2 linked regions of the Homo sapiens genome follow. The protein of the gene in region 2 purifies or fractionates together with the protein of the main gene of each other region. This does not show direct contact. Each region holds a gene or a part of one and is shown on either strand. Other genes may lie near its edges.

Region 1 (3,653 bases), on a different chromosome or scaffold from region 2:
GTGTCTTTTATGCAGAATACCCCTGCACTTGTACACATTCAGCCTTTAAATTTCTGGGCCTTCTTTCAGTCACTTGCTTCAAGAAACACAGAGCCAGGCCTCCTGCTGAGAAGCCCCAGTGAAAAATAGCTTTCAACTGGATTTCTTCTCTTTCCTAAATGAGTCAATCTAGCCAGCTGGAAACTTACTGCTGCCAAAATCTGTCCCAGAAAGACATGGATACCAAATGGAAATATCTGGGCCAGACCACTGTTGTGGTGGAGGAGGCAGGTGCTGCAGAAAAAGAGAGCAGCAAAAAATTTGTTAGAAACAGCTCTTCCTAAACACAGAGGAGCCTCTGGGAGTGGACTGGCCTGGCACAGCAGCTAGCAGAGGACAGGGACAATCACCCTATTTTGTTCAGATGGACCTACCAAGGAGATGAAAAGTGAGAAGAATCTTACCTGTGGCACACTGGCATTCATAGCCATTCGGGTGATCGATACACTTTGCCCCATTCAGACACGGAGTACTGGAACAGTCATCAATATCAATCTGGCAAACTGGCCCAGTGAAACCTCAAAAAGGGACAGTGGTAACATGAGTCAAAGGATTATCTTGTGTCTCCCTTTACCATGAGAATGATGTTAGGTTACTAGCAGGGCTTATACCAATGGGTCAATAAGCCTATGCTTTATTATTCTCCCCAACAGGTAACTGGAATAACCAGGTGACACTCAGGGAATCAGAGGCACTTGTGGTGTGTCTCTACCATTGCTTCTTCACAGACAGACTTCACTTCTAAATGAAGGATGTAGGAAGTGAAATTTATAGGTGGAACCTCAAACAAGTAACTGTAGCTTCAGAGGCAACAGAAACCTTCTCTCTGAAGATACAATGGGGTAAGATGCAATCTATGGAGGACAATTTGGCATATCTTCAAAAATAGCTTGAGGAAAAAAAAGGAGAGACAGAGAATCTTGGAAAAATTGGCATGTGTTGTCTGTTTCTGAACTCATGGGTGAAATGTCTAAAAATAACAGTCTCACAGAGGGCCTTCAAGAATATGACCCATGGGAAAAAAATAAAATCCCGAATAGCCTACAACTAAGGCTTCTGTGAGGTATGAGCATTCTGAAATATATACACAGACGAAGAGGTCATGGGCCATTCAAGAATAGACTTGGACTTTTGGCCACAAAGGACTTGTAAGATATAGTAGCTAAAACAAATTCTCTATTTCTGTACACACACACTCCTATCACCAAGCACTTACTCTAATGATTTCCTCATGCACAGCCCACACACATTCTCTCCCTGCTCTCTTCCCTGTGGTCAGTTGGCTTTGTGCTTTAAGAGAAAACAGGGCCAGGTCGTGGGCACTTACCAGGAGGACACAGGCACTGGAAACGATTGACTTTATCCACACACTGCCCATTGTTCACACAAGGGTTGCTCTGACATTCATTTATTTCTAATTCACAATGCACACCTTTGAAACCTAAACAAAACAGACCACACAAGTGGCTTAAAGAGAGAGAAAGGTGTATTCCAGACAAGGAAGCACAAATTTGCAATGATAACTACATCCTTTGCGAGTACACACATTTCTGCAGAGAAAAAAGGAACTCTGCCATGATGAGAAATAGTCACTCCAAGTGTCAAGCAGGACAGGGCATACTGTGAAATACCCATGTCACTGTGAAAAGCGGGAAGGGATTACATTAAAAGACATTGGCAAGACCTAGCATATAAACAAGGACTGCTCCACATTTTCTGTGATAAATCCATACTTTCTGGACTGTGGAAGGCCCAAAATGTCCCCACTCTATGTTCCTAAAGACAAGCTGAGCTGGAGCTGTTGTTGCCTTCAGGGTGCAGTTCAAGGTCAGCAGTGCCTTTCAAGGCTGGAGTGGCCGGCAGCCTTAATCAGGCAGAGCAGCCAATGTTAGCCATCATTTCAAGCTGGATTTGGCTGTATCCTCTCAAAATTAAAGACATGGTCTATGCAGAAGAGCTCCAGAATACAACTAAACATGTACTGCACTTTAGATAAATGGAAACTTCCTATATAATTGTGGATAAAATTTATTTATATAAATGGAATGGTATGGTATTTGTAATTACATGAAGGTATCAGGAAAACTTGCTATTTAAAGGATTCTTACAGTAAATCATTTTTGAAATTTTCTATTACATGTGGATTTTGATATAACAGGCTTGTTTAATTTGGTCTACATAGCTTGATGAATTCTAGCACTGCCTTACTCTTTGAGTAAGGAAGGTTTGCTTGTGAACCCTGACTTCCTCTAGTCCCCAGTCAGCAAAGGAAATCAAATGCTGACAGAGCTCATCAGACTGCAATAGTATACTGAATGCTCTACCAAGAGAAGTTCAGAACAGTCCCTCCTCTCTAGACCCAACATGCTGATGGGCCCATTTACCTGGCATGCACAGACATGTGAAGCCTCCAATCTTATCCAGACAGGTAGCATCATTCTGGCAGGGGTCTGAATGGCACTCATTGATGTCCATCTCACAACGAGGTCCTGCATAACCCTTCAGACACTCACAGTGGAAGGCGCCATCCGTGTTCACACATTTTCCTGCATGCTCACAAGGATTGCTATTGGCTGAAAGACACAAGTACCAATTACTGGGATCAAAGCAGTTGAGTTTCCACAAATGTGAACAATAGAAGAGCATCTGATGGTTATAGCATCAGGGCCAGGCCTTCAATAATATCATTCCCAATTTTCTATTTTTTTTTCCTTAATTTAAAAAGAAATAAAAGCGGAGTATCCTCAACTGTTATGCATTTCTGCTATTGCAGTTTCTGCCCAAACTGTCATTGAGGTAGGGCTTTATATTAAGAATCAAGTACATACGTTTCATACAGTTAATCCCCAGAATGGAATATATGGTTATGGCTATGCTGAAAGGTCACTTGTAAACACTGGCCATGTAGCAAGAGTAATCTGAGGTTTGGGTGTATGTAATTTGCTTCTACAGTAAAATGTGCTTCAGTTTAAACATTTGCTGAGCTCAACAGACACTTCACAGAACAGAAAAAGTTCTGCTTACTCACCCATGGCACATTCATCCACATCTTCTGTGCAGTCAGCCCCTTTGTAGCCTTGTGGGCAGGTGCAAATATATTGCCCATTTAGGGGGTTGGTGTCACACAGTGCCCCCTTGTGGCAAGGATTGCTGATGCATGCATCATCCAGATGACACAGGAGACCTGTCACAGGGTGGGGCAAAGGACAACTAAGAGAAAATGTCTCTCACTTGGGGAAGAGCTTTCTCTTTCACCCAGGAGGGAAAACCTCATGATCAGTTCCTCAGAATCCAACATGGAGATTTATACGCAACTTCTGCTTTGCCTGACCCTACCTTGGGGACATGCTTGGCCACCAGCAAAGCACCTAGATGCAACCCTAGACTCTGACCCTGAGCTCTCAGCTAGACCTCTCCTCCAGGACAGAGACATCTACAGGCCAGAAGATAAGAAGACGGAGACAGGAAAGTGGAGCTATCTTCCAGATAGTGTGCCAGATTTAGCAAATAAAATAGAGGATGTCCAGTTGAATTTTAGATAAACAAGAAGTAATTTTTAGTATGTCTCAAATATTCCATACATCCTATATTTTATCCGGAATCCTACTTCCCCA
Region 2 (2,646 bases):
TAATGTTTGCCTGCTTGTGGAGCATGGTATTTAAAGGGTGTGGATGGATGAATGTTTAAAAAAAAACACACAAAACTATGCACAAGCTGTATGAGAGATGGCTAGGTCCATCTATGATTTTTTTTAAAAGAAGAATTTTAATACCTTTTCTTTGACAGTGAACTGTATTTAGAAATATGATCTTTATTGTGAAATGCTCATAAAATGCAACCAAACTGCATGTTTGGCCATAGGCTAGAATAATATATTAAAAGAATTAATGGAAAGTAGTATTGTCTGGGTTTCATGAAACTATTCCAGATAATATTCTCCAGCAAAACTTATGGTAACCTGTATTTTATAATGTCAATCTGCTGGACCAAGTTAATTTAGAAAATAATTTTTAATCCTCAGATTTTCAAAACTTGGACTACTGCAAGACTGATATGTACTTTTTATGCCCAAATCATATTTTTCAAAGATAGGACATCATAAGGCATCATTATTTCTAATGTATCTTTTAACTAGATAGAAAAAGCTTTACTGTCTAAACAGGACTTCTGCTCAAAACCTAATGGGAAAGCTATTTCTGGGGTAAGATTTGTAACAGTGCTTCTAGGTCATTTCATGTTTTATAGGGAAAAAGATCTTTGTACACCTCCTCAACCTGTTAGTAGAAATGTTGACTTCGATTTTTTGCACCCTCTTCACAGGACCTCATAAGTTGCCTCTGTTCTTGGAAAGCAATGGGAATAAAAATATGCTGTTGAAAATAGTGCATGGGGCCAGGCACAGTGGTTATGCCTGTAATCCCAACACTTTGGGAGGCTGAGGCGGGCGCATCATGAGGTCAGGAGATCAAGACCATCCTGACCAACACGTGGTGAAACCCCATCTCTACTAAAATAAATAAAAAAAAAAATTAGCCAGGCGTGGTGGTGCACGCCTGTAGTCTCAGCTACTCGGGAAGCTGAGACACAAGAATTGCTTGAACCCGGGAGGTGGAGGTTGCAGTGAGCCAAGATTGCGCCACTGCACTCCAGCCTGGCTACAGAGTGAGACTCCGTCTCGAAAAAAGAAAATAGTACATGGAGGGCATGCATTTTAGTTTAGGAAACCCCCCTCCCTTCCCAGTTCCAGAGGGAGAAATTATAAGCTATACTGTGCCAAAAGTGAGTGGGGCTGCAGAGAGAATGGTGCCTTTTCTCACCTTCTGAGTTAATGCCCGACATCTGCCATTGGATTCATTGACCAAAGGAAGTCATTTCTACTGTATAAACTCAGGAGTATCATAGCCCAACAAGTAAATAATAAATGTTCATTGGTTTTGGAAGGAAGGAAAGGTGAGTATTACCCCACCAAATACCAGCGAAGAGCACCCTGGCTTTGGCCATCTTTCCAAGGTTCATAATTGCTGTGGGCCTGGTGAGCCCTGTTCCCAGGTATGCAAGGGAGGGCTTCTCCAGGCCAGACATTTCTGTAGGTTTTCAGGTAGCAACTCCCCCATCATATTTTGGGTGTCATTCCCCACTCTCTCTCCCCACTTCTCAGCCTGTGCCCCAGAAACAACCACAGCAGCCTCATTCTGCAGACTTAACATCTGTCAAATAACCTTCCTGAAAAGGAAAGTTATTGGAGGAATCCAGGCCAAACAACAAGTAGAATAGAGCCATCTAAAGTTATTAATAATGAGTTCAGGGAAATAGATGAATTTTTTCCTGGCATAGTCAATATTTATATCTCACAACAAGTCAAAAATAATTTTCCATTTGGAAAACAAAACACACCATGACTGTAATTGTTAAGGCATATAATCATGAACTTCACATGCTCCCTCAACAAACGTTACTGCTCTAGGGAAATCATAGAAAAGGACCCTCTTACTCCCCAGGGGATCAAAGCAAGTCCCCTTAGGAATTTCATGTGTGCCGTGGGTCTGTTTTTATTTCACAGTGACTAGTCATATACTGGAGTAGCTCTGTTGTTCATTATTTGTAACAGGTCCATGTAACAGTCAAGTTAGCATTCAAGCAATTATGGATGTGATACTATGATGTACTTTTGTTATGATTGTATATGCTTAATAACAAAGTTATTTTTCTTACATTGCTCTACTGTGTTTTGTCTTGACACCTGGTTTTGTGAAGCAAGTTATCTTTTTACCCAGTGAACAAGGAGACGGAGAGGTACATTTCTCTTGAGAGCTGGAATCGAGAATCTGGGTCAGCCACCTCCTGAGGTCTGGGTGTGCTCAGAGCATTTGAATCTGAATCAAGGTCTGAAGGCGCAGGTACCACTGCATGTGGGTCTCAGAGATCCAGTTCCCTAGCTGAGATTCCCAGGGTGAGATTTTCAAACCGAGAACCCTCTAGACGCTCATTGGAGCTGCCTTAGGAGCTCACAAACAAGAGGCCTGTGAAGACTGAGTGCTCCCTGCCCCCAGCGCTGCACTCACAGTGACTCCATGTCCAACTAGTTTTCTGTTTGGGATTAGAATTCCATGTAAGATTTCCTCTGGGGGATGCAGTGGCAAACGCCTGTAGTCCCAGACACTGGAGTGAGAGGATCACTTGAGCCCGGGAGTTCAAGGCCAGTCTGGGCAACATAGCAAGACCCCATCCCTTAAAAAAAAAAAAAAGTTTTATTAAATGTGGCACTTTCCCCTAG

What was found.
Region 1: the proteins of CCBE1 (region 2) and NOTCH2 purify together in Homo sapiens (co-immunoprecipitation; one large-scale study listed by IntAct). This does not show direct contact.

Annotation. Positions count from the first base shown.
Region 1 is NC_000001.11:119,965,010-119,968,662, forward strand, and holds part of NOTCH2 (neurogenic locus notch homolog protein 2 isoform 1 preproprotein), read right to left. Parts: intron 3,224-3,653; coding exon 3,068-3,223; intron 2,613-3,067; coding exon 2,424-2,612; intron 1,481-2,423; coding exon 1,367-1,480; intron 558-1,366; coding exon 444-557; intron 1-443. UniProt on the Homo sapiens protein: Functions as a receptor for membrane-bound ligands Jagged-1 (JAG1), Jagged-2 (JAG2) and Delta-1 (DLL1) to regulate cell-fate determination.
Region 2 is NC_000018.10:59,430,376-59,433,021, reverse strand, and holds the end of CCBE1 (collagen and calcium-binding EGF domain-containing protein 1 precursor), read left to right. Parts: 3' UTR 1-2,083; downstream 2,084-2,646. UniProt on the Homo sapiens protein: Required for lymphangioblast budding and angiogenic sprouting from venous endothelium during embryogenesis.